Linked DNA regions of Homo sapiens: all the other regions are linked to region 5. Evidence: fine-mapped expression QTL. A gene starts in region 5. Each other region holds a variant in brackets. All regions are shown on one strand. Distances are between the middles of the regions.

Region 1 (6,150 bases), 45 kb before region 5:
CTCCACCTCCCAGGTTCAAGTGATTCTCCTGCCTCAGCCTCCTGAGTAGCTGGGGTTACAGGCATGTGCCACCAGGCCTGGCTAATTTTGTATTTTTAGTAGAGATGGGGTTTCTCCATGTTGGTCAGGCTGGTCTCGAACTCCTGACCTCAGGTGATCCACCCGCTTCGGCCTCCCAAAGGGCTGGGATTACAGGTGTGAGCCACCACGCCCAGCCTATATAGTTTTAATGAAGCATACTTTATATATCCCAAAATTCATGTTTGTAACTATAGACATATCTTGGACATATTGCAAGTTCACTTCCAGACCACTGCAATAAAGCAAATATCAAAATAAAGCAAGTCACACAAATTTTTTGGTTTCCCATGACATATAAAATTTACTTTGCCCAGATCCACCAGAGGAATCACTATATATGGGACCTACGGCCTTACTAAATGTATTTCTGAAATAATAGGACTTCCAAGTCAAAATGACTTCTTGATCTGTGGGCTGCAGAATGGCTGTTGTGTTAGCAGGTGTGGAAACATTAATCTCCTTGTACATCTCCAACAGAGCTCTTGGGTGACTAGGTACATTGTCAATGAGCAGTAATATTTTAAAAAGAATCATGTCTCAGCAGTAGGTCTCAACAGTGGGCCTAAAATAGTGTTTAAACCATGCTATAAACAGATGTGCTGTCATCCAGGCTTTGTTGTTCCATTTATAGAGCACAGGCAGAGAAGATTTAGCATAATTCTTAAAGACCCTAGGATTTTTGGAATGGTAAGTAAGCACTGGCTTCAACTTAAAGTCACCAGCTGCATTAGCCCCTAAGAAGAGAGTCAGCTTGTCCTCTGAAGCTTTGAAGCCAGGAACAACTTCTCCTCTCTAGCTATGAAAGTCTTAGTTGGCATCTTCTTCCAATAGAAGGCTGTTTCATCTACTTTGGAAATCTGTTGTTTCTCAACATGAGCAAAGCAGAAAAAAGAAAAAGAAGAAAAAAAATTTGAAGAAAATCTTTTGTTTATTATATCTACCTTCATGGAATAAATATAACTCTAAATCAAAGATGAAATTATAAACAGATTAGAAAATATTTTGGGCCAAGGGAGGTGGCTCACACCTGTAATCCCAGCACTTTGGGAGGCTGAGGAGGGAGGATGCTTGAGGCCAGGAGTTCAAGACCAGTCTGGGCAACATGTGGAGATCCTGTCTCTATTTTTTTTTAAAGAAAATATTTTGAACTAAATTATGTAAAAAATGTTGCTATAGTATGCAGTTAAAATTGTGTTGAGAGAAGTTTCTAGATTTAACTGGGTATATCAGAAGAAAGACGAAAATTACAGAGTTAAGTACCTATGTGAGAAGACACAGGAAATTAAAATAAAATAAACTCAAATTAAGTTGAAGGAAGGCAATAAAGAGCAGAAATGAATGAACCAGAAAATAAATAGTAGAAAAAACCCAACAAAGCCAGAGCCAAGTTCTTGGCAAAAACAAGTAAGATTGGCAAATCCCTAAAGAACCTGATCAAGAAAAATAAAACTAGCCAAGGTTAGGAATTAAAAAGTGGGGCCAGGTGCAGTAGCTTATGCCTGTAATCTCAGCACTTTGGGAGGCCGAGGCGGGCTGATCATCTGAGGTTGGGAGTTTGACACCAACCTGACCAATATGGAGAAACCCCATCTCAACCGAAAATACAAAATTAGCTGGGTATGGTGGCGCATGCCTGTAATCCCAGCTACTCAGGAGGCTGAGGCAGGAGAATCACCTGAACCCGGGAGGTGGAGGTTGCAGTGAGCCGAGATCGCGCCATTGCACTCCAGCCCGGGCAGCAAGAGCAAAACTCCCTCTCAAAAAAAAAAAAAAAAAAAAAAGAATTAAAAATTGAGTATTACAACTAATGCTGCAAATACTAATATGGCAATAAAAGGATTTTATGAATACCTTATGTCAATACATTTGAGAATTTTGATGAAATAAATTTTTAGAAAAATACAACTTAACAAAAACATAAGAAGAAACAAAAAATTTCAATAGTTATGATATGCTTAGAAATTGAATTTGTAATTAAACTATTAAAGAAATGAAATTTGTAACTCAAAGTCTTCTCACAAAGAAAACTGAAGAATCAGATGGCTTTAATAACAAATTTACTAATCATTTAGGGCAGAAATAATTCTAATTTTATACAAATTATTCCACAGAATAAATAAACAGGGACCACTCTTTAACTCATTTATAAATCCAGGGCCAGGCATATGTTTGCTCACACCTGTAATCCCAGCACTTTGGGAGGCTGAGGCGGGCAGATCGCTTGAGCCCAGGAGGTGGAGGTTGCAGTGGGCCAAGATCACACCACTGCACTCCAGCCTGGGCATGAGAGCAAGACCCTGTCTTCGTTTTTTCTTTTCCTGTTTTTTTTTTTTTTTTTTTTTTGAGACGGAGTCTCACTCTGTAGCCCAAGCTGGAGTGCAGTGGTGCGATCTCGGCTCACTGCAACCTTCATCTCTAGGACTCAAGTGATTCTCCTGCCTCAGCCCCCCAAGTAGCTGGGACTACAGGCGCACCCCACCACACCCGGTTAATTTTTTTGTATTTTTAGTAGAGACAGGGTTTCACCATGCTGCCCTGGGTGGTCTTGAACTCTTGAGCTTAGGCGATCCACCCACCTCGGCCTCCCAAAGTGCTGGGATTACAGGTGTGAGCCACTGCGCCCGGACTTTTTTTTTTTTTTTAATGAGACAGAGTCTCACTCTGTCACCCAGGCTGCGGTGTAATGGCACTATCTCGGCTCACTGCAACCTCTGCCTCCTGAGTTCAAGCAATTCTCCTGCCTCAGCCTCTCGAATAGCTGAAGAGTCTGTCTTAAAAAGAAAAAAAAAGCCAGACGCACTGGCTCACGCCTGTAATCCCAGCACTTTGGGAGGCCAAGGCGGGCGGATCACAAGGTCAGGAGATCGAGACCATCCTGGCTAACACTGTGAAACCTCGTCTCTACTAAAAATACAAAAAATTAGCCAGGCGTGGTGGCGGGCGCCTGCAGTCTCAGCTACTTGGGAGGCTGAGGCAGGAGAATGGCATAAACCCGGGAGGCAGAGCTTGCAGTGAGCCTAGATCACGCCACTGCACTCCAGCCTGGGCGACAGAACAAGACTCCGTCTCAAAAAAAAAAGAAAAAAAATCCATAAATAAAAAGTACAGATAAAAAACATAAAGGGAGGAAATAAACATAATTAATAAATAAGAATACAAATGAATAAGAATAGTGGTTACCTTTAGGTAGGAAGGGAGGTTGTAATGGGAAAGGGCAGTCAGGTAGGCGTCTGTGGGTTGATAATGTTCTGTTTCTTGATCTCGATAGTTTTCAAGCATTTACTTTGTAATAAATCATTAAGATGCACATTTTTGTCTCATACACTTTGCTGCATGTGTAGTAGAACTCATAATAAAAAGTTTACAAGGCTGGGCGCGGTGGCTTATGCCTGTAATCCCAGCACTTTGGGAGGCTGAGGCGGGCGGATCACAAGGTCAGGAGATCGAGACCATACTAGCTAACATGGTGAAACCTCGTCTCTACTAAAAATACAAAATAATTAGCTGGGCGTGGTGGCGCGCACCTGTAGTCCCAGCTACTTGGGAGGCTGAGGCAGAAGAATCGCTTGAACTCTGGAGGCGGAGGTTGCAGTGAGCCAAGATTCTGCCACTGTACTCCAGCTTGGG[C/T]GAAAGCAAAACTCTGTCTAAAGAAAAATAAAAGTTTACAGTACTCACTCCTTATCCTCAGTACATATGTTTTAAGACTCCCAGTGGATATCTGAAACCACAAATAGTACCAAACCCTACGTACACCATGTTTTTTCCTCTAAATATATGCCCATGATAGAATTTAATTTATAATTTAGGCACAGTAAGAGACTAATAACAATAACTAATGATAAAATAGAACAGTTATAACAATATGTCAATCTTGCATTTGGGGTCACTATTAAGTAAGATAAAGGTTACCTGAACACAAGCACTATGATACCATGACAGTCGATCTGATAACCGAGTTGGCTACTAAGTGACTAATGGGCGGGTAGCATAGACAGTGTTGGATATGCTGGACAAGGGGATGAGTCATGTACTAGCCTGGATGGAGGGGGATGGTGTAAGATTTCATCAAGCTACTCAGAACGGCATGCAACTTAAAACTTATGAATTGTTTATTTCTGGAATTTTCCATGTAATATTTTCAGACAGAGGCTGACTGTGGTAACTGAAACCATGGAATGCAAAACCATAGATATGGGTGAACCGCTGTCTTTAAATTTATGGAACCAGTGTCACTTAATGAGAGAATGGTATAAATATTTGTTGACTCTCTTTCTTGGATTTAAGTACTTTTCTTAACCATATCTTTACTTACTCTAACAGGCTTACAACATCCTTTTCTTGGAAATTATCTTTTAGCAATTAATCTCTTTACTGTAGCTCTTTAGCTTCCAAGCTCTATTAACACCCTTTCACTGGAATCAATAGCTATAATTACTTTCCGTAGTAAGGGCATCTATTCTTGAATTGTCTATACTTCCTAACATGGGGCATTGTTTGTAGAACCCCAATTTTTTTTTTGAGATGGGGTTTCACTCTGTCACCCAAGGCTTCAGTGCAGTGGCGTGATTGCAGCTCACTACAGTCTCGACCTCCTGGACTCAAGCAATCTTCTCCCCTTGGTCTCCCAAGTAGCTGAGACAACAGGAAGCATCACCACACTCAGATAATTTTTATATTTTTTGCAGAGATGAGGTCTCACCACATTGCCCAGCCGCTAGTCCCAAACTCCTGGGCTCAAGTAATCCTCCCACCTCGGCCTCCCAAAGTGTTGAGATTATAGGCATGAGCCACTGTGCCCAGCCCAAACCCCAAAATTTAATTTTGTGTTGTAACACACAAAGATTAAGCAATAATTTGTATAACTGCAAGGTGTACAATATAAAGACAAAGCAAGTATATAGACTCATTGGGGACGAAATAAGCATCAGCCAGTTTTTCTGGGAATTTCCACATCTGCCTCCTATCATTGATTATTTTAATCTGTTTGTCTTCAGTTTTTGTCTACCCAACCCTAGTTCAAAACCCAGGCATCTGTCTAGAAAAAGCTTTCACAGTAACAGGAAATTTGATTTAGTGATAAGAAATATGAATAATCTTTTATTAAGACCAACCCATTATTTATTTTCTACAACTATACTAAAAGAACAGCTAAGTGAACACAGTTCAAATTATATTTTGATAGTAATTACAAAGCATATAGCTAACTATTGCTCCTATCTACCTTTCTAAATGCCTAAATGTTTCAACGTCCCCTGTAAGGTGAATAATAAGCATCAAAATATAGCAGATTAAAACAATTCTGCACCAAATTATGGTGACCCAGACTCTGGTCTACGAACTGTCATCAATTTGATAAACTTAAATAAAGGTAGTATTTTTATCATAAAATTTCTCACTTTTGGAACATGAGGATTAAATTCCACAGCTCTATGAATTGCTTCCACGGCATTAATTTCTGCTGTGCTTAATCCTCTTCTGGAGGCTGTTTCTGGAGAGAATCTACAAGAAAACCACAAAATGAAAAAATAAATATGCTAAAAAAAAGAAAAAAAGTATGAATTTAGATAATAATACAGCCCCTTGAATCAAAAGAAGTTTCTGGAGATGGCCAAAAACAAAGCCAGAGGACTAACAAAAAAAAAAAAAAAATTAAAGCTGGCCGGGCGCAGTGGCTCATGCTTGTAATCCCAGCACTTTGGGAGGCTGAGATAGGTGGATCACCTGAGCTCAGGAGTTAGAGACCAGCCTGACCAACATGGAGAAACCCCGTCTCTACTACAAATACAAAATTAGCTGGGTGTGGTGGTGTGTGCCTGTAGTCCCAGGCACACATGGGAGGCTGAGGCAGGAGAATCACTTGTACCCGGGAGGCAGAGGTTGCAGTGAGCCAAGATTGTGCCATTGCACTCCAGCCTGGGCAACAAGAGTGAAACTCTGTCTCAAAAAAAAAAAAAAAAAAAAAAAAAGTATAGTCTTGTGGGTTCAACATAGAAAAAACAAAGCAGCATAAGGAATGAAAGTCTTCAAACTTAGGTAAAGAAGGCCTTCAGGAGAAGTCCACTGAAGGTA
Region 2 (6,691 bases), 86 kb before region 5:
GCGTGATCTTGGCTCACTGCAACCTTCGCCTCCCAGGTTCAAGCAATTCTCCTGCCTCAGCCTCCTGAGTAGCTGGGATTACAGGCGCCTGCCACCACATCAGGCTAATTTTTGTGTTTTTAGTAGAGACAAGGTTTCACCATGTTGGCCAGGCTGGTCTCAAACTCCTGACCTCAGATGATCTACCCACCTCGGCCTCCCAAAGTGTTGGGATTACAGGAGTGAGCCACCGCACCCAGCCTCTGTGCCTATTTTAAAACATATATCCCAAAGTCATATCCCCAGTGATCCAGCTAGTCTGTTACTTTAATGAGACAGCTCAATAAAGATAGGAAATATTTTTTCAGTTACTTAAAGAGAAAATAATACTGGTGGTTCTCCCTGTAAAGAGGTAGAATTGCCAAAAAATGCAGAATTGATCAGCAAAACCCAGCTATAAAGAAAGGGCAAAAGGAACTTTATTTTAGTGCCTTATCCCAATATCCTTTTATTTAGTTTTTTGATTAACATGATGTGTGCCTATTTTCAGAATCAGTGACTGCCAGCTGCAGCTCTTGACATTATCAAGTGAGCTCTGGAAAATTCTGGGTAGCTCTTTCCTATTCTCTCACATGCCCAAAGAACTAAGTAATTTTGGTCCTAACTCTTACTATTCTATTCTTCTTCACATGAAATCACATTGTTTCATACTGAAAACCAGGATGGCTATTAGTTCTTATTAATCTGTCATTATTAGGAATGAGAGGATATAAAAGAGGTATATAAAATGTATGAGTGTAGAGCTTTTGTCTAAGGCAATTACTCTGTGAATCTGAGGTGAGACATTTCTTAAATTTTGAATTGTGGAGCTCTCCATTTTTTGATAAATTATATTCATATAAACATTATAATAAATAACACTGCTTACAAAAAGATGAATTCCAGCTGCTGAGTATAAAGATGAAAGTACTCCACATCACATATTTGGAAAAGAATAAAGATATCTCTTTCTATATGTTCTTGCTTGACCTAACCGAATAAATTCTTCTGAAAGGAAGCATAATCTATTAGTCTAGACTGACCTTTTGGGTCACTATATCTTACGGGAGCCGTGTGAAAATAACTCACCATTCCCTTCCAGTCAAATAAATGAATATTCAAGGATGAACTCATCTATTGTGGCAATAGCTTCCACCTTATACTAATACATCTTCATGCCCATCTCAAACCCCCTACCACTAGACTATGAGTTACTTATGAACAGGGATTATATTTTATACTTCACAGGTACCCAATGAATTTGAAATGCAAAGACCTGTTATATGTTATAGGACAATCATTACCATATTTTAGCATGTTATAGGACAATTAAAACCATGTTTTAATTTGCTGAGGCTCTTTACAAATCTAAACTTTGAAAACAAATCAAGACAGGCCCTATTGGAGTCCTTCCATTCAATAAGCCAACATTCAAAGAAGACTCTTTTCAGGTTATCCAGGACTCTCTGAACTGCATGTTCTACTGCAGTTTTTGTTTTTTGTTTTTTAAAGGTGGTATTACAAGAGCTAAAATTCACCAAGGGCAAATTAGTAAGAAAAGTCTTCACAGCTAGGGCTTAGCCAAATTAGAATCCCTGGGCTCGCAATAAGGGCTAAACCCCTAAAGGGATCAGAGTCTAATAAATAAAAAACATCCAGCTGAATTTTATCAGAGGGCAAAGTTTCAACTTTGAGTGCCCCAGCAACCAAGGATGAATTATGCATAAGATTAGTAAAGTGCCTTCGTCCACACCCTAGACAGAGAACATTTTTCTATCTCACTGTGACTGAAGGAAAACCAGCAATGTATTTGCCTGCCAAGAACAGCTGTGGCTGTACTCTTGATAGGAGTCTAACAACACTGTCGGATTAAAATTTAATTGTAAAGCTGCTGCTACCTGGGAGTAAAAGCATGAGCTCTGGCTTCAGAAAGAAACTGGGACTGCAGCATATTGAATAAATGAAGACGAGAGCTGGCATGTTCCTAACAAAGAGTGTGGGAATGTGCTCCCTTCTCCAACTGTCCCCTAAGCTGCATCTTTCTCTGTCACATTGGTCATCTGCAAGGATGTTTAAAGGAAACATAGCCCTTTTCTACACTTTGAACAGTTTTATTTCTAGAATGCTTGAAATTACAGAGTGAGGTCAGAAGGTGATTATGTGATCTGCATTCTCTGAATATCCTACTCTTAATTTTGTTAAGTATTATTGAATCCCAAATAATTTCTCTCCTTGAAGCTGGCTACTGTCAAGACAGACTTAAGACAATCTTAATGTTATTACAGAACAAAGATAATTTTATGATTTCCTCAAATTCAGATAGAACACCCAATTAAAACCCAATATTTTATTGAGGCCTCATGAGCATTAAGGAACACACCCAAGTTTCCTACCTATTGATACAATTACTAGAAGTACCTCTGCTACCTAAAATTCCTACTTTAGGGAAAAAAGTTATAGGTTATGATATTTTAGACCAAAAGTTTATTATGTTCAGTTTATCTTTCCCCTACAATCCTTCACAAACTTGCCCTTTGATTTTGAAAGAAGACTGATATTGAAACATAAGGTATACATTTATACTTCATATTAAAACTTTAAAAAAGTAACTTGAGAGTCAAATTCCCTCTGAATCATTACAAACCAGGGCTTACTGTTTCTTTAGTATTATTGTACATTTTAAGCACTTAGAGAGGCTGAAGTCTATGCAGTAACGTTTGAGTATGCAATGTAAATGACCAAGCGGCATTCTTTCTTAAGTAGCTAACTAGCAAGAGGAATGACATTGGAATGAATCAGTTTGAAAGAAAAGCATATGTGCGTTATTTTATTTTATTTTTTTTTTTGAGATGGAGTCTCGCTCTGTTGCCAGGCTGGAGTGCAGTGGCGTGATCCTGGCTCACGGCAATCTTGGCCTCCTGGGTTCAAGTGATTCTCCTGCCTCAGCCTCCCAAGTAGCTGGGACTACAGGCGCGCCACCACGCCCAGCCAATTTTTGTATTTTTAGTAGAGACGCGGTTTCACCATGTTGGCCAGGATCGTCTTGATCTCTTGACTCATGATCCACCTGCCTTGGCCTCCCAAAGTGCTGGGATTACAGGCGTGAACCACCACGCCCGGCTGAGTTCTTTATTTTTAAGTAATTAATTTATGTATATATGTATGTATGTACCTATTTATTTAAGACAAGGTCTTGCTCTGTGTCCCAGGCTGGAATGTGGTGTTGCTATCATGGCTTACCATAACCTCCAACTCCTGGGCTCAGATGATTCTCCTGTCTCCGCCTTCTAAGTAGCTGAAACTACAGGGGTGCGCCACCATGCCTGGCTAATTTGTTTTTATTTTTACTTTTCATTTTTATGAGCTCTTACTACTATAATTACTACTGTAATTGCCCAGGCTGGTCTCGAACTCCTGGGCTCAAGCAATCCTCCCACCTCAGCCTCCCAAAGTGCTGGGATTACAGGTGTCAGCCACCATGCACAGCTTTCATTCTTTATTTTAAAGCATTGGAGTTCATCAAACAGACTTAAACTGTGAAGAGTACTCCCAGGCAGCTTATTTGCCCACTGATACTTGTCTTTGCAGTAAACATTTCTCCAACCTAAGCACCCTTTTTATTTTTCTGACAATCCACATCAG[T/C]ATCTTCATTTAAAACTCTTCTCCAAATTTAACTCTTTTAGGAAAGTTTCTCTAGCAAGCCACTGGATATCACCACTCTGTCATTCTCTATTCCCTCAGCATTACTATCTCTGGTATGAAATTTATTCTTTTGTACTCATTTCAGTGTAAGTTATGAAGTGATATATTATTGAAATCAAAAGTATGTATCATGACTAAAAGTAATAAGCTATCTTATCAATTGTGTAATTTTAGGCACATCACTTAACTTTGATGACTCAAACTTTACATCTATAATGTTCCCATGGTTTCGGTAAGTCTATGTTCCAATGGCTCCAGTAAGAATAAATGAGGATATAAGTATAATCTCTTTTAAAAAATGAAGCACTAACTGAAGTCTGAGTTACTCTTGGTTTAGAATTGTAATATATTATGTAGTCTCACTAATTTAGTTCATTTGATTGGTAGGGGAAGGGAGCCAAACTCCACCAAGATAAAAGCTAAAAACTATTCCTCAATATTATAATTTTCTTCTGTACCCCATGATTCTCCCAATTTAGAGGACTATGCTGGGTCTGCAAGATAGAGATGTTTTCTAAAACAAAGATCAGTGTTTCCTATTGTGAATTATAATATCACTAGGAGAATGGGTTTCGAATGAGTGATTTATATCACTATCTAAGCACAGCTCTTCTAAAAACTGCTAAGCACTCCATGTGTCCCAAGCGCTAATGATTAAGCAATAAATATATCAGTAGCAGTTAGTGACATGATGTCCTAAATTTTAGCAATGAGATTTTCACTTTGAGGGGGAAAAAAGATGATTAAACATATGTGAAACAAATTCTGGGAGAGCTTCTGTGAACCTCATACTTGACAGGCACATGTTAATGGGAAAAAAGGATACTTTCTACCAACTTTAAAACTGAATTAAACCCTGGGGAAGGGATATACACATGCGTTAAACGGTATATTGTTGGCTGGGCGCAGTGGCTCACACCTGTAATCCCAGCACTTTGGGAGGCCCAGGTGGGTGGATCACTTGAGTTCAGGAGTTCAAGACTAGCCTGGCCAACATGGTGAAACCCTGTCTCTACCAAAAATACAAAAATTAGCCAGGCATGGTGGTACATATTGTAGTCCCAACTACTTGGGAGGCTGAGGTGGGCATATGGTTTGAGCCAGGAAGGTGGAGATTGCAGTGAGCCCAGATGGTGCCACTGCACTCCATCCTGGGCAACAGAGGCAGACTCTGTCTCCAAATAATAATACTAATAATAATAAGAAGAAGAAGAAGAAGAAGAAGAAGATGAAGAAGAAGAAGTACATTGACATGGCTGGGCACGGTGGCTCAAGCCTGTAATCCCAGCATTTTGGTAGGCCGGTGTGGACAGATTGCTTGAGCTCAGGAGTTGGAGACCAGCCTGGGCAACAAAGTGAGACCCCATCTCTATAACAAATTTTTAAAAATTAGCCTAGCATGGAGGCACATACTTGTAGTCCCAGCTACTCGGGAGGCTGAGGTGGGAGGATCACTTGAGCCCAGGTTGCAGTGAGCCGAGATGGCACCACTGCACTCCTGCCTGGGTGAGAGAGTGAGACTCTGTCTCAAAAAAAAAAAAAAGTACATTTTCCTAACTTTTATTATTTTCTTTCCCCCTTAGAAGAGCTCAGTGCTTAGAAAATCTGGATGAATAATAATACCAGCAATTTCACAAATTTCTTAGTTTGGTTCTTTTTGAAGCAGAAAAACAAGGATGAAACATGAGAAATACCCTTCTAGGAGGTAGAGAACGTCTTTTCTCTTGATCCAAAATCCCAGTTAGTAAAGAAAATTAAAATTGAATATGCGAGACTGCCCAAATAAAGACTTTAGATGCACCAACAATGGAACAAATATGTAAACATTTAAAAATTTTGACCTGTCACACAATAGGTTTATTTTATTATCTGTATTATCTCTGGGAAACAACTCAGATTTATAACTGTGGAAATAGCATGGTTATAGAATATTTTACAGAAATGTAAGTTTAGTTACATTTCAAAATGTTTTTAAAACTGTATCAGTTCTTACGAACTAAAAAAGTCTCATAGCTTTGAAAGTAATCCATTTTCAAACAAAGTGAAGAAATTTATTTTAATCATTAATTTAATTTCTGAATGTGGCCCTAGGAATTTAATAAAGAAGTATACAACTATCATGTCACAGGTTATAATAATGGAAAACTCAGAACCTTTAAAAAAACATATATTTTTCAATTGGTATACATTAATATATAGTTATAATTGTTTATTAACTCCCCCGGTTCTGAAGATCAATCTTTTCCCTGAAAAAAATGGTAAGAATAGTGGACAAATCTTCCCAAAAGTTTTGTTCACTTTTCAGTAAAAGACACTTGGCATTTATATCTGCTTATTCTTTTAAAAATGTAATTTGGGAAGAAAAATTTTAATTATTTTTGAGAAGGGACTAAAGAAACCCCAGTGAGACATTCTGTAGAGAGGTTCTTTGTTAGTGTAACATCTGACCTTCTATATCTTTGGAAATCATGCAACTTGGCTAATGTAGTCCTTAAAGAATTAATCAAGCAGATTGTAAGGCCCTAGTTACAGTGGAGCCAGCCAATTATGAGTTGCTCAGAAATTCATCATTGGCATGTCCAACCACATTTTCCCACATAAAGATTAGTAGAAATATGTGGAAACAAAGCCCATTCCCACCGCAGCACAGCTACAATATGCGTTCAGTAAAACAAACTTCAACAAAGTTTTGCTGTACTAAAACAGACAATTTATTTGGGAATCTCTGATTCCTACCTTTACCTGTAACACCCTTTTCTGCCAAAATTGCAAAGACTACCCTGTTTAGTTAAAACCCAACTAGGGACTTTTTTTTTTTTTGAGATGGAGTCTCACTCTGTTACCCAGGCTGGAGTGCAGCGACGCGATCTCGGCTCACTGCAACTTCCGCCTTCTAGGTTCAAGCAGTTCTCCTGCCTCAGCCTCCCAAGTAGCTGGGATTACAGGCAAGTACCACCACGCCCAGCTAATT
Region 3 (5,000 bases), 100 kb before region 5:
ATCCAGGGTTAAAACTGAGTGAAGAGAAAATATTGCCTTGAGAAACAATAATGACTCTGGCAACCCACCTATTCTTTAGTAGCCCATCTCAATTGACCTTCTTTTAATTGTTCATATTGGACAGACTGGAGACTGCAGTGTGGGGAGAGTCATCCTCTTACTTATCTTGGCCTTTGGCTTCCCACTGCAGACAGCCCTTGCAGGTCCATCCAGGTTGGGGAAGATGGTTTTAAAAGGTTCATTAGTTAAGAAAGGCCCTGGGGCCTGGAAATAAAGGGTTTGAGGAGGAGAGTAGAGGGTGGGGTCTTCCTCCCCGGACCTCACGATTGGGAATGAGGATTTTTTTTAGCTACACGGGTCTGACTAGAGCTGTAAACGTTACTCAGATTGCTCACTATGTCTCTTCCCACGAGCCCCTCCCTGTCACCACCCCCCTGCTGTCAAACCATATCTTCGTGGACCAGCCATGCGGGACATCCCTCTTAATGGGAGCATAAGAGTGTTGTCTCAGACCCTTATTTTGTTAGTTTATGTTTCCATGAAGCTCTTAATGTTTATTAAATAAACAGACAATGAGTTTGTGTGACATGCCCACAGCTTCTGTGTATGTGACACATGCCTAGCCTGTGTTCTGGGAGTGTATGTCACTTTGGCCTTTGGCTGGGGAACTGGTGATGGTGGGAGGCCACTCAATTACTCTCTCTGCAACTGTATAACTATTAATACTTCTTCAGAACTGTGGGAAATGGTTCTACTCATCAGCTTTATGGAATGTGGGTTAGGGAGAGGGGACAGAATCTCTTCAAGGTCTGGATGCTAAACGTACCCCTTCCTTATTCCCTCCCAATGCAGAAAAAGGTCTGGGATGTTCTGACAGGGCCATCTCTGCCTTGCAGGTACATTGGGGCACTGGGGGCACGAGTGATCTGTGACAATATCCCTGGTTTGGTGAGCCGGCAGCGGCAGCTGTGCCAGCGTTACCCAGACATCATGCGTTCAGTGGGCGAGGGTGCCCGAGAATGGATCCGAGAGTGTCAGCACCAATTCCGCCACCACCGCTGGAACTGTACCACCCTGGACCGGGACCACACCGTCTTTGGCCGTGTCATGCTCAGAAGTAAGAGCCTCTTCCATCCTGTGTCAGCTCCTTCCCTTTCTGTGCTGGGGGTGGTGAGTGGGAAGAGTAGGCAAGATCTCCCCTCTCCTCTCCCACACACTGTTTCATCATCAGAGAAAGAACTGTGGGCAGAGCCCAGGATATAATTGGGAACAGACTCTTAGCATCTTAGATTTGTAGACAGGGGCTCCTCTAAATCTTAGTGCTCTGGGACAAGACCAAGGTAAAGCATTCCCTAGAACCTCCATCTTTCTCCCTCATTTTCCTTGTCCTCCCCAATCCCCAGCTTGGGAGGCTACCATGTACTGTAAGGCTGAGGTCTATGATAGGCCCTCTGTTCTTAACACCACCATCACTATCGTCACCCCAACACTCCCAACACTACAGTAATGGGAACAAAAGATAAACAGAAAGGTGATATGTAAATATTTGGAGAGTCAGTGGCTTGGCCTCAGCTCAGCAAAAAAGCTAAATAGAGCTAGACAGTAAACTAGGAGAAAGGGAACAAGATGGGAATCTGGAGGTGTCAGGCATACAGGGGCGATAATTCATCAGTCTCCAAGAGCAGGGAGGGAGAGCAAGCAGGCAAGGGAGGGTAGCATGGATCTCTAAACAGGCTGACCCCTGGGCTGGGGTCTCCATTGTGGGGGAACTGTCCAGCAGAGTGGGCCTGAAAAGGCCTGGAATGTGGACTAAGGCAGGCTTAGCTGAGCCAGTGCTGGCACTCAGTGGGAGGGGATGATTCACCAGGAGACTTTTCAATGGATGGACACAGGGAATTTGGCAGGAAACAAGAGTATAGGTCAGCTCAAAAGGTCAGATATACAAAGAAGTGGATAGAGAGTAGTGAGGGCTGAGGGGAAGAGGTCAGATACTCTGGGGAATGCTCTTGGAAATGAAAGGCACCTTGAATAAAGGGGGTGTAGGGGTGACTCTGGGAAAGAAAATTAGGGAAGAGGTTTCAGAGTCAGAGGTTGTATGGGCTGAAGAAGGGGACAGACATGGGCCTCTTTCCTGAAGCACACCTCTACAATTCTCTCTCTAGGTAGCCGAGAGGCAGCTTTTGTATATGCCATCTCATCAGCAGGGGTAGTCCACGCTATTACTCGCGCCTGTAGCCAGGGTGAACTGAGTGTGTGCAGCTGTGACCCCTACACCCGTGGCCGACACCATGACCAGCGTGGGGACTTTGACTGGGGTGGCTGCAGTGACAACATCCACTACGGTGTCCGTTTTGCCAAGGCCTTCGTGGATGCCAAGGAGAAGAGGCTTAAGGATGCCCGGGCCCTCATGAACTTACATAATAACCGCTGTGGTCGCACGGTCAGTACTCATGTCTGTGTAAGTACACTCATATTTGCTGGGGGTGACCAGTGTGTGTGACCATGGACTAAATAAATGTGAAGATGGAAGAGCTGAAGGCTTCTGGGTCACTTCCAAAAGCCCCAACATCCTGGGACAGGAGAACTAAATGCAAGGGAGCTTAGGAATGCCTAGGGTCAA[T/A]CAGGTGCGTGAAGAGTCTTCACATAGGTGGAAAGTAGGAAAAGGTGGAGAAAAGAAGTAACTTTTTAAGAAGGAAAAGAACTGCCTTCATAAAGACTGAGAGGATAAGAGGTTGTTCTAGTCAGTTCCCTGGTATTTGAACATCTTCTATGTGCCTAGTACTATGCTGGAAAATGGCACACCACTAAAGTAGAAGGCATGGTACCTGGCACTCTAAAACGTGAAAAGTAGAGGATGTGCAAGCACACTGTCATCGTGAACAGAATCCTGTGGCTCTACAGTTCAGTGGGCTGTCATGAAAAGGAAAGCACTGTTGGTTCAGGCAGATTTCCTGGAAAAAGAGTTTCTTGAACTTGATCAGGAAGAATGGGTGGGATCTGATGTGGGAGAGAACCGAGAGCTCAATCGGCCAGCCAGGGCCAGGTCCAGCCTATCTCAGAGCACTCATCCTTTTGGACCTAGGGATGACTAAAATGTGTCCTGACCAGCTACTTCTCCCTTAACTGCCTTCCCCCTCCCCCAGGCTGTGCGGCGGTTTCTGAAGCTGGAGTGTAAGTGCCATGGCGTGAGTGGTTCCTGTACTCTGCGCACCTGCTGGCGTGCACTCTCAGATTTCCGCCGCACAGGTGATTACCTGCGGCGACGCTATGATGGGGCTGTGCAGGTGATGGCCACCCAAGATGGTGCCAACTTCACCGCAGCCCGCCAAGGCTATCGCCGTGCCACCCGGACTGATCTTGTCTACTTTGACAACTCTCCAGATTACTGTGTCTTGGACAAGGCTGCAGGTGAGTAAGGAAGGCAGGCAGGGACATGCAGTCCCAGTTCTTAGTGCAGGCACCCCTGGTTAATCATGGTCTGTTCAGTCTCAGGAGTTAGGGAAGGGGGTGCTGTGGGAGGAGGCAGTTTCCTCTCCACATGAACACCTGGTCATGAGATTGTTGCAGTCCACCAGGCCCAGTGCTGCCCAAGTAGAGAGGAGGTCACTCAGCTCCTTGAGGCCTGAGGTCATGCATCGCTCCTTTGTATCCCAGCATCTGGGATACAGTAGGCATTATTCAGGGTATGTTTAACTTAGTTACCTGTTTTCAGTTTTAAGCAATGTGTGGGCTGCACAGAAACATAAGATGCAGCCCTAAGCCTTTGGCTCTTCGCAATCTACTTAAAGAAATGAGACATAATGGGTAGACAAATGCAAAGAGAGATGGAGAAATCAATAAAGTTTATTTGAAAATGTAGGGAAAAAAAAGAAACTAGAATTTAAGCTGCTCCTTGAAGTGTAGGGAGTATCTGGATAGCTTGAGAGACGAGTGGGCAATTTCTTATCAGAGAGTAGTAGGTGGGAAAGCACATGATCTGTCCCAGGGACAGAGAACAGACCAATCTGCTGGGTAAAGGTTCTCTCTAAGGGAGATTAAAGCTAGAAAGATGTCCTTGAAAGGCTTTATCCAGTGTGCTGCCATTGAAGATTCTGAAACAGCTGAAAAAGAAACGAAGAAGAGATCCCTACCAAAGGCAGGTAAAGCAGCAAATGGTTGTTTTTCAGTCTGTTCGAGGTATTTGTGGTGGGATTCTTGGAGGTGCTGGAAGTTGATATGGTTTTTCCCCAAGGGAATGAAAGTTACCATCCTGGCTCACATTTCTGGTTCAGATAGGTTAAACTAGGAACATGCAATGCAGCAGAACTCTTCTCCTCTGGTTATTGCTGTGGGGCTCCCAGGCTCTTTTCTACAGGCTCAGCGTCAGGACTTGGGTGAAGTGGAGCCAAAAAACCTCAGCTATCTTCGGTACTGTTTGTTTTCACCCATCACTGTCATTCCTGGAAGAGTCAAGTGGCTTGGAGTAAAACTGGGCACAGAAAAAGGGTGGGGCTCTACCCAATTAATGAAGAAAGTAGTCTGTATACTTTGTAGGGTGCTAGAAGAAAAAAACTTGGAGCCCTTCTGATTTTCCTAGTGATTTCCTGCCACTAAGTATACTTTCCTCCCACTTGGTCTAATTCAGAGGGTCACTCTCTGGATACCTAGAAATAATTCCATAACATCTGAGGTGTAAACCTATACTACCATACTGAAAATACACCTTTAGGGAAGGAACTTTGGAGTTAGGAGGGAGGATAAGTCAAATGTGTGTTCGTTTTTCTCAGAGGCATAAAATTAGGCCTCCTAAAACCCAAAGTGGGCCCTGGAATTCAAAGAATATAAGTCATCCCAGAAAGAATATGGAGCCAGGAATTCCCTCCAAAGCAATAGAGTCCAATTGAACTTTCTGTGATGATAGAAATGTTTTCCTATCTCTGTTGTCCAATACAGTAGCAACTAGCCACATGTGATTACTGAGTACTTGGAATATAACTAGTGTGACTGAGGAGCTAAATTTT
Region 4 (5,000 bases), 53 kb before region 5:
CTACTTAGGCCACAGTACAACATAAGGGAAAGGCAAAGGTTTCATTGTGCTCTAAGTTTGGGTCACAGACTTCAACACTTCTCCTTTGCTCTCTTTACCCCTGCTATGCCACTCGGAATGTCAACTGAGCACCTGTTTCCCTTTTATCTTTTATATATGCCGGTGCTATGATATAAGTAGTTTAGCCAGTGAAATGCAAGTCTGCTGCTAAAGAGCTACTATCAGCTGGGAGCAGTGGCTCAGCACTTTGGGAGGCCAAGGCAGGTGGCTCACCTGAGGTCAGGAGTTCAAGACCAGCCTGGCCAACATGGTGAAACCCTGCCTCTACTAAAAATACAAAAATTGCCCAGGTGTGGTGGCGGGTGCCTATAATCCCAGCTACTTGGGAGGCTGAGGCAGGAGAATTGCTTGAACCCAGGAGGCGGAGGTTGCAGTGAGCCGAGACTGTGCCATTGCACTCCAGCCTGGGCAACAAGAGCAAAACTGCATCTCAAAAAAAAAAAAAAAAAAAAAAGAGCTACTATCTTCTAGGGTGGATAAGACTTGTAACATTCTACGGGCTTCCATTTCTGATCAACCAGAACAGATTTTACTTTCTATGTATCAATTTATTTTTAAAACTTCCTCTGCACTTAAAAGTCTCCAGGTATAGTCTACTTTCTTGGCAGCATAACACTAAAAGCAGTTTTATTGTAAAATAAGAAATAGTAATTTTTATTTATTATTATTATTATTTGAGATGGAGCTTTGCTCTTGTTGCCCAGGCTGGAGTGCAATGGCGCGATCTCGGCTCACTGCAACCTCTGCCGTCCAGGTTCAAGCGATTCTCCTGCCTCAGCCTCCCAAGTAGCTGGGATTACAGGCGCCCACCACCATGTTCGGCTAATTTTTTTTTTTTTTTTTTTTTTTTTTTTTTGTATTTTCAGTAGAGACAGGGTTTCACCATGTCGGCCAGGCTGGTCTCAAACGCCTAACCTCAGATGATCCAACCCATCTCGGCCTCCCAAAGTGCTGGGATTGCAGGCGTGAGCCACCACGCCCAGCCAAAATAGTAACTTTTAAATGCTACAGATAGCGAATTTCTAAATATGTACTCCAGTTATAAGGATTTACTAAACACACTTTTGTTATTGTTTTGTTTCTTACTGCTCTACTTTACTCTTGCCCTAAGGGCTTCTTCTGTAAGACACAAACTGTTTTCAGGGTATTGTAACTAATTCAAATTAGTTATTACCTAACTATTATTACGTTATTAGCTAATTCAAATTAGTTAATTCCTAACTGTTTTCAAAATCTTCACCACTACCTCATCTCAACAAAGGAATCCCCCAAACCTTATACATTCTAAGGCTACAAACACTAAAATAACATCCACAAAGAAACAAACACTGAACAACTCAAAGAAGATGGGCCAGGCACAGTGGCTCATGCCTGTAATCCCAGCACTTTGGGAGGCCAAGGTGGGCGGACTGCTTGAGCCCAGGAGTTCAAGACCAGCCTGGACAAATGGCAAAACCCCATCTCTACAAAAAATACAAAAATTAGCTCCGTGGCATGCACCTGTAGTCCCAGCTACTAGGAAGGCTTAGGTGGGAGGATCACTTGAGCCCACCAGGCTGAGGCTGCAGTGAGTCATGATCATGCCACTGCACTCCAGCCTGGATGACAGAACAAAACTCTGTCTCAAGAAAAAAAAAAAAGGTACAGAAATAAAGTGACAACCACCATGATAATCAATAATAGCCTGACACTCAGACACTGTGTTAAGCACTTCACATACATTATCTAATTTCATCAGAAGGCATGATACTTTTACAATGCTTTCCATGCTAAGTCAAATTCTTTTTTCTTTATTGAGGTATAATTTTAAATACATAGATCCTAAATATGCGGCTTGATGAGTTTTGACAAATGTAGACAAGTAATGCCCAAATCAAGACATATTTTCTTTTATTTCTTTTTCTTCTTCTT[C/T]TTTTTTTTTTTTTTTTTTGAGACAGAGTCTTGCTCTGTCATCTAGGCTGGAGTGCAGTGGCGTGATATAGGCTCACTGCAACCTCCACCTCCTGGGTTCAAGTGATTCTCCTGCCTCAGCCTCCCAAGTAGCTGGGACTACAGGTGTGTGCCACCATGTCCAGCTAATTTTTTGTATTTTTAGTCGAGATGGGGTTTCACCATGCTGGCCAGGCTGGTCTCGAACTCCTGACCTCGTGATCCGCCCTCCTCAGCCTCCCAAAGTGTTGGGATTACAGGCATGAGCCACTGCGCCTGGCCATCAAAACGTATCTTCTTTCACTCCAGGAAGTTCTCCTTTCTAGTTAATGAATGTTTCACCTGACCACCTGAGGCAAACAGTGTTTTCATTTCTACCACCACAGATCACTTTTTGCCTTTTCTTGAACTTCACATAAATGGAATCATTCAGTAAGTACTTGTTTATATGTCATATTTTTGGTTTCATTCATGTTTTGCTTGTATCAGTAGGTCTTTTTATTGCTGAATACCACTGTATTGTAACTTACTTATCTATTTACCTATTGAAGGACATTGGGATTGTTTCTAGTTTGGGGCTATTATAAATAGAACTGCTATGATATTCATGTTCAACTCTTCTTGTGGACATATGATTTCATTTCTCTTGGGTATATACCTTGGAGTAGGATTGCTGGATCACAGGTTGAAGGATATATTTAATTGTATCAGAAATTGCCAGTTTTCCAAAGTGGTTGTACCATTTTGTAATCTTAGCAGCAGTGTATGAAAGTTCTGACTTTCACATTCTTATTGACATTTTATCAGTCTTTTAAATTTTAGTCATTCTGATAGATGTGAAAGTATTACTTCATGACTTTATATTGCATTTCTCTCATAACTAATGATGTTGAACATCTTTTCTTTTTTTGCCTGCTTCATTTTACCTTCATATGAACATCTCTTTATGTGTTATTGGACATTCCAATATTTTCTTTTGTAGTATCTGTTCAAGGCTTTTGCCCATTTTTTAATATTGTGTTTTTTTATATGTATATATTTTGGATACGAGTCCTTTGTCAGATAAACATATTACAAATATTTTTTCCTGTCCATGGCTTGCCTTTTTGTCTTAACACTAACATGAGCAGACTTTTAAAATTTTGATAAAGTTCAATTTGTAATTGTCTTCTCTTATAATTGCCTTCTATGTCCTAGGAAATCTTTCTTTACCCCCAGCTTTCAAAGATAGTCTTAGATGTTTTGGTCTAGATGTTGTATAGTTTTGGTTTTTATATTTAGATCAATGACACATTTCAAATTAATTTTTGTGTATGCTATGTGAAAAAAATTCATGATTCCCTCCCACCACATTTAGATATCCAGATGTTCTAGTACCATTTGTTGAAGTTCCATTTCCCCATTGAATTGCATTGGTGCTTTTGTCAAAAATCAATTGACAGTATATATGTGAATGTTTTGTCACATATATGACAGTATATATGTGGATCCATTCTGTGATTTTGTTTTTTATAGTAATTATTTTATATTTGAATATAAAATAAAATTTAGAAGAATTCAGCTATAGTATGCTTACTTTAAAAATCATCAATAAAATATTACAGCAAGCCATTGTTAGATCTTAAAGTTGGGCGATATTATTCTAACTGATGTGTGAAGTGTCATACCAACAATAGTTACATTTATAGTAGATCACTGACATTCAGGGATCTAACGTTTACAATTTCTACTCTTTGTGGGAGCTCCAAATACCCATGATGTATAGCAGGCATCATTTTGCTAAGGCACAAATTTGAATAACATGCTTTGAGGCTTGTGCACGCATGTGAATGATGTACCTAATGAATACATCTAGCAGGCTCTTTAGCATCTGTATCTCAGCAAGGTTTGTGACCCATTCTCATGTTTACATTTCATAGGTGAAAATACATGTAATAGTGGCATTTTCAAATGTGGATATTCACAATGGTTCTGGATCACATTAATCAAGAGTGTCAATGGTCTACTGTAATAATATTTTTTTTTTTTTTTTTTTTTTGTGAGACGGAGTCTTGCTTTGTCGCCCAGGCTGGAGTGCAGTGGCATGATCTCGGCTCACTGCAAGCTCTGCCTCCCAGGTTCATGCCATTCTCCTGCCTCAGCCTCCCAAGTAGCTGGGACTACAGGCGCCCACCACCATGCCTGGCTAATTTTTGTATTTTTAGTAGAGACGGAGTTTCACCGTGTTAGCCAGGATGGTCTCGATCTCCTGACCTTGTGATTCGCCCGCCTCAGCCTCCCAAAGTGCTGGGATTACAGGCATGAGCCACTGCGCCTGGCCAATAATAATGTTAAAGAATACCTTATAATAAAAAGATAAATAGAATACCTTTAATTTAAAAAACAAAAAAACAACAACAAAAAAACAAATTTAGGCCAGGCACAGTGACTCAAGCCTGTAATCCTAGCACTTCGGGAAGCTGAGGCAGGAGGATCCCTGGAGCCCAGGAGTTTGAGACGAGCCCGGGCAACATAGGGAGACCCTGTTTTTTATAAATATAAATATAAATATATATATATATATATATATATATAAAACAAAAATTTAAAAATATGCAACTTGAACATATATCTGTCCAAAGAAAAAACACAAACAGCCAATAAACATATTAAAGTGATGCTTAATATCATTAGTCATTAGGGAAATACAAAACAAAACTACAATGAAATATCACTTCATACCCATTGGGATAACTATAATAAAAAAGACAGATAATAATAAGTGTTGAGACAAATGTAGAGGAACTGGAACTCACACATTGCTGAGGGAATGTAAAATAATGCAGTTACTCTGCAAAACAGTTTGGCAGTCTCTCAAAAAATTAAACAGAATTACTTGCGATCTACCAGTTCCACTTCTAGGTGTATACTTGAGAGAATTGAAAAATTTATGTTCACACAAAAACTTGTACATGAATGTTCATAACAGCATTATTCATGCTAGTCAAAAAGTGAAACCAACCCAAATGTCC
Region 5 (5,000 bases):
GTTCAAAACTACTCCATATTTATTTTGGTAGGATACAAAACCACTGTCTCAAATTAGAGGGAAGGAAACAGCATATGTATTTGGTATATCAGCTAGAGAGGCAAAATGGCTCAAAGAGAAAAGCAACAAACAGAAATCTCCCTGAGTTACTGAAATCCTGGAGCAGATTTTTCACTTCAAATAATTATCTCATAAGTACTGTGGGTTTTAGAAAGAAAATAAAAATCTGGCCAGGTAGGATGGCTCACTCCCATAATCTCAGAGTTTTGGGAGGCCAAGGCAGGAGGATCACTGGTAGCCAGAAGTTCAAGACCAGCCTGGGCAAATAAAATAGACCCAGTCTCTACGCAAAATTTAAAACTCAGCCAGTCGTGGTGGTGCACGCCTGCAGTCCCAGCTACTTGGGAGGCTGAGGCCAGAGGATCGCTTAAGCAGAAGAGTTCAAGGCTGCAGTGATCTTGCCACTACACTTCAGCCTGGGTGACAAAGGGAGACTCTGTCTGTCTTTCTCTCTCTCACACACACACACACACACACACACACACACACACACACGAAACGTAAAAAAGAAAAATCTATAGTAATCAACTATTCTCATCTAAATGTTGCATATGGTTAACGTAGAAAAATAAATGACAAGTCAATCAGTAACACTGTGCATAGAAACCACCGTTAAGCACTTCATTCACCTGTTACAGAGATGCCAAATTAGCTCTTCAGTTTAGCTTATTTTAGAGTGCTAGTTATATTTGAACTTGATACCTATCCTCCAAAAAAACCAAAATATTTCCGAACATTAACTCACAGTCTTTCATGTCATCTCTGAACAGGAAAGGGGACATTTGCTGCCTTTTGCTTCAGAAAAATCAACCACCATACTGAATCATGTAATGGAAATACTTATATCTTGTTCTGAGGTTGCTGCTCAGATCTTGAGTGAAATATAATCACATGGTAAGGGGACCTGGGCCCTAAACACTTCATCCTGTCTACAGCTAAAGAATAGTACAGTATATGAGAATCCATCAGGATCATCACTTCTTACATGTGTTCGTATTGTCAGCACAGAATACGTAGCAAGTGTTCTACAGACGTCGAAAGAACTAGCAAACCCACTGTTGTTTGTGGCGCTCTCACTTCCTGTACTATTTTATTACTCAAGATAAGCCTAAAAGAACAGACAAAACTATCACGAAAACGATTTCTTAACAGAACTATTTTAAAACAAGAGAATCCTCAATTAAAATCATGCCATTTTCTTTCTCTGAAATCTTTAAATTACAGATGTGCTCATCTTTGTTGCCTGGATATGAGTTCTTTCAGCTGGGCAGCGGGAGACTCAAAGTAGTGACTTTTAAGGGATCCTACCAGAGGTGGGGGAGCCAATATAAATTACGTATCCTAATCTGAGACACTCTTCTGTCCTAATACCTGAAGCTTATAGCTTGTCAGGTGGCTTTTCCATGGAAAAACGAGGACATAAGAGAGAGGGCGGACCTTAAGAGTTCTACGGAGGAGCCGGTAACGGCAGCAGGCTTGTCAATCAACTGCAAGGTTGCAGCCCAAAAGAAAAAGAACTCACTTGATCGCTCATCATCGACTCCTCAGAGGCCCTCTAGGACTACCGAGAATCTCTTGCCCTTTGGCTCTTGCCCCCGACATCTCTCCTGGCCCCCCGCCCTGCCCCAGGAGGTCTGGTCCTCTCACCCGCTGCCAAATTCTCACACAGCCTCAAAGGGATCCTCAGGGCGTAAAGCAGCCCCAGCCCCGCCACGAACCACAACGAGGCCCCAGTCCCCGCCAGCCCGGCCCGCAGTCGCTCCCTCCAGCCTAGCGTCGGGTTTAGGCCAGGGACAGATGCAGGAGACGCTCCAACAGCTGCGGCTTCACCCACGCCGCCACGGTCCGCCATCTTGCCGCTATCGCAGGCGCCAGGAGCTGGGAGGGGAGAAGGACAGGAAACCGGGAGTCGGGAATCCTGGGATAGTGGCGGACCTGAAGTTGGCCTCTGTGAAGGCTGAGTCCTGGGGAACCGGGACCGAGAAGATTTCGAAGGTGGAGGAGCGTGTCTCAAGATTGGGGCTACCTGTTCTTTCGTGGGGCAGGGAAGGGGCGGACAGCAGCGCCTATTCTGGAGGAACTGGACTGAGATGTGACCCCGAAGTGTTACCGCTTCCAAACGAAATGAGGGTCACCTTTCACACCGCCCCCCCCCCGGGGTTGGAAAAGCCACCGATCGTTCCAGCTGCCGAGCAGCTCTTAAAGCTTTGGATTCGGCTGTCGTGGAGATAACGGGCACCAGAAAAACTTGTAGGAGTAGCAACAGCTATTTGGTCGGATGGAGGCCAGAAGCCAAGAATAATCGAAACACGCTGCCAGCGCCCATTAGATGGATGGGAAATGAGTGTAACTCATTGGGAAAGATATTAGACTTCAAATCACCTAAGGCAAACCCTACTTCCTGGGGCGCGGGCGCGGGCGCTGGCGTTAGGAGACGTCACTCCCGCGCATAACTGACATGGGGCCCTCTTGGTCGGCGTTTCCGGGCGGGTCCTTCCGACGGCCGCCGCGGTGATTCCATCACTCGGCTTTCTTCCCGGCCTGCCTCGCGCCCGTAGCCGGGCTGGGCCAGAACAGCCCAAGATGGCCGACTTCGATGATCGTGTGTCGGATGAGGAGAAGGTAAGGGGTCCGCCTCTCTCTCTTACCTCCTCCCCCGACAGGGAACTGGGGCCCGGCCCGGCTGCGTTGGGAGCCTAGCAGTGTCCCCAGGAAAAAGAAGCTTCTTGGTCCATGCTGACATACGCTCTCCGCAGTCGGGACGCTTCCCTCTTAGGGGGCTTTCCTCTGCCTCACGGTGGCCCCAGTTCCTCGTTCCTCGACTCTCCTTTTCTCTCAGGCCTGAGGCACAGCCCAGGGGCCTCCCTGCAAGGGAACAGACGTTTCCTTTATTGGATCGTGACTGTGGACTTTTTTCTGTAATTTTGCGAGAGGGTGGTGGTTATGTTGCGACATATCAAAAAGCAGTTATTTTACCGCCTTTAGCAGTTGGGGCTCACCCCATCCCCCCATTTGTAGATATAATTGGGGTTAGTTTAGGGCGAGTCACTTCCTGGTCAGGATGGCCTCTTAACTTCCCTTTTGCTCCTCCTTCCTCAGGAAGTGATTTTGCTGTCACGACTCTTCGACAAGGAGAGGTCCCAAATGTTGTCCATCTCCCTACACATGCACTACTTTTCTCCTGTACTGTCGCCTGTCTGATTCGCTATAATAAATCTGTGAGCCTCAGGGCATTTGCTTCAGAATTTGAACACCAGTCTTTCCCTATAGACACATCCCTTTTAACGATAATTTTTGAAAATTTTGTTTCTTGTTAACAAATCTAGAATAGCTGATGGATTTTCTTAACCTCCAGAAAGGTTTTCTGTAACACATAATAAACCTTATGTTAACACGTTCAAGACTGAACAAAGCATCCTGCCTTCTTTGATGCTCCACTGTGGAGTCTTTGATCAGTTGAATTTGTCAGTGTGCATTTTGTATGCTCATTTCTTGAAAAGGGTCTTAAATACAAGAGCACATTCTAAGGTGGAATAACTTTTCTTCTGACAGTTGCACAGTTTCATAACAGTTTGTCAGGCTTTTCAGTAAGTACATGGTTTTAGGGCACGTAGAACTTAGAATGACCTCACAAGGCAACTTATTGGACAAGAATTATGACATTTGTCTCCCACTGTGGCTATTAGAAAATGTGTCCCCTTGAGTGCTCTGTAAATCTACCTGGGTGTTTTTTTCAATAAGAAGTTGGGATGGGAAGGGGACTGTTATGATCCATAAGTCCTCTGTACGGAATAACTTGATATATGTAGATATGGCATGCCATTTTGAAATGTTTAACAAGCCATTGACAACAGCGTTAGATTTTCTCTTATTTGGAAACTGATCTTCATACATGTTTAAGATTTAGGACAAAAACATTTATGTATAAGCCTATGCTGGAAATCGATCTATAATAAATTGTTCTAAGGCAAATAGTTACTATTCAAATAAAATTAAGCAAAAATCCTGTTACAATACAACTAAACAATTTTTTTTTTTTTTTGAGACGGAGTCTCGCTCGGCTCACTGCAACTTCCGCCTCCCTGGTTCAAATTATTCTCCTGCCTCAGCTTCCCGAGTAGCTGGGATTACAGGCACCCGCCACCAAGTCCAGCTAATTTTTGTATTTCTTGTAGAGAGTGGGTTTCGTCTTGTTGCCCAGGCCGGTCTCAAACTCTTGGGCTCAAACGATCCATCCGTCTTCGCCACTTAAAGTGCTGGGATTACAGGCGTAAGCCACCGCGGCCGGCCAAAATTTCACAAATAATTTAAATAATAAACTTTTAAGTTTATTGTGCCTACCTGATACACATTGACCAGTGTTGTTGGATTTTTGTCTTTGATACCAGGTTAGAATGCCTTTAATTAAACTTGGGAAAATATATATTTTAAAATGCCAATTAAGATGCCTTTAGATACTGGCAGTGTTTTAATTAATAACATTAATGTCTTGGGTTATGGTTTTTTTTTTTTTTTTTTGAGATGGAGTCTCGCTCTGTCACCCGGGGTGGTGTGCAGTGGTGCGATCTCCGCTCGCTGCAACCTCTGCCTCTCTGGTTCAAGCGATTCTCCTGCCTCAGCCTCTCGAGTAGCTAGGATTACAGGCGCCCGCCACCAAGCCTGGCTAATTTTTTGTATTTTTAGTAGAGACGGGGTTTCACTATGTTGGCCAGGCTGGTCTCGAACTCCTGACCTCATGATCTGCCCGCCTTGGCCTCCCAAAGTGCTGGGATTACAGGCGTGAGCCACCGAGCCCAGCCAGTATTGTTTTTTTTAATAGCAGATCTGTGACCAGTTTCCTCTTCTAGCATACTTTTTTTGTTGCCAAGTATATTTTAATATTGTTTTTTATCTTTGTTACATTTTCTAAAGGCAGTGAACCTTTAGAAAATTTGGTGATA

Alleles and levels. Alleles are on the strand shown, and positions count from the first base shown. SD is a standard deviation of normalised expression in the study named. Not every link is listed here.
For the expression in spinal cord of the gene that starts at base 1,940 in region 5, T is the low allele of the variant in region 2 and C is the other (moderate effect, 0.50 SD a copy in GTEx).
With allele T in place of A in region 3, the expression in prefrontal cortex of the gene that starts at base 1,940 in region 5 is higher (moderate effect, 0.49 SD a copy in GTEx).
With allele T in place of C in region 4, the expression in monocytes after triphosphate RNA of the gene that starts at base 1,940 in region 5 is higher (large effect, 0.92 SD a copy in Kim-Hellmuth 2017).

What was found. PIP is the estimated chance that this variant, and not a neighbour inherited with it, causes the effect.
Region 1: its variant is the best candidate, but not a certain one, in a credible set for the expression of ST7L in subcutaneous fat (FUSION, PIP 0.89).
Region 2: its variant is the best candidate, but not a certain one, in a credible set for the expression of ST7L in spinal cord (GTEx, PIP 0.74).
Region 3: its variant is the best candidate, but not a certain one, in a credible set for the expression of ST7L in prefrontal cortex (GTEx, PIP 0.87).
Region 4: its variant is the best candidate, but not a certain one, in a credible set for the expression of ST7L in monocytes after triphosphate RNA (Kim-Hellmuth 2017, PIP 0.54).

Annotation. Positions count from the first base shown.
Region 1 is chr1:112,571,509-112,577,658 of GRCh38, forward strand. ST7L (suppression of tumorigenicity 7 like) reads right to left here. Exons shown (of 15, transcript NM_017744.5): 11 at 5,478-5,580. Among named protein-coding and RNA genes, the nearest start is that of ST7L, 45 kb to the right of the region's middle. The variant C/T (reference allele first, on the strand shown) is at 3,709.
Region 2 is chr1:112,530,474-112,537,164 of GRCh38, forward strand. The region is part of intron 14 of ST7L (suppression of tumorigenicity 7 like); the gene reads right to left. Among named protein-coding and RNA genes, the nearest start is that of WNT2B, 25 kb to the left of the region's middle. The variant T/C (reference allele first, on the strand shown) is at 3,661.
Region 3 is chr1:112,513,978-112,518,977 of GRCh38, forward strand. WNT2B (Wnt family member 2B) reads left to right here. Exons shown (of 5, transcript NM_024494.3): 2 at 897-1,117; 3 at 2,163-2,440; 4 at 3,144-3,408. It also overlaps a transcript of ST7L not described here. Among named protein-coding and RNA genes, the nearest start is that of WNT2B, 7.5 kb to the left of the region's middle. The variant T/A (reference allele first, on the strand shown) is at 2,621.
Region 4 is chr1:112,564,326-112,569,325 of GRCh38, forward strand. All of the region lies in intron 11 of ST7L (suppression of tumorigenicity 7 like), which reads right to left. Among named protein-coding and RNA genes, the nearest start is that of ST7L, 52 kb to the right of the region's middle. The variant C/T (reference allele first, on the strand shown) is at 1,972.
Region 5 is chr1:112,617,202-112,622,201 of GRCh38, forward strand. ST7L (suppression of tumorigenicity 7 like) reads right to left here and starts at 1,940. Exons shown (of 15, transcript NM_017744.5): 1 at 1,708-1,940. The coding sequence starts at 1,912. It overlaps CAPZA1 (capping actin protein of muscle Z-line subunit alpha 1), which reads left to right and starts at 2,631. Exons shown (of 10, transcript NM_006135.3): 1 at 2,631-2,682. The coding sequence starts at 2,644. RefSeq lists enhancers at 1,904-2,003, 2,112-3,311, 2,464-2,913.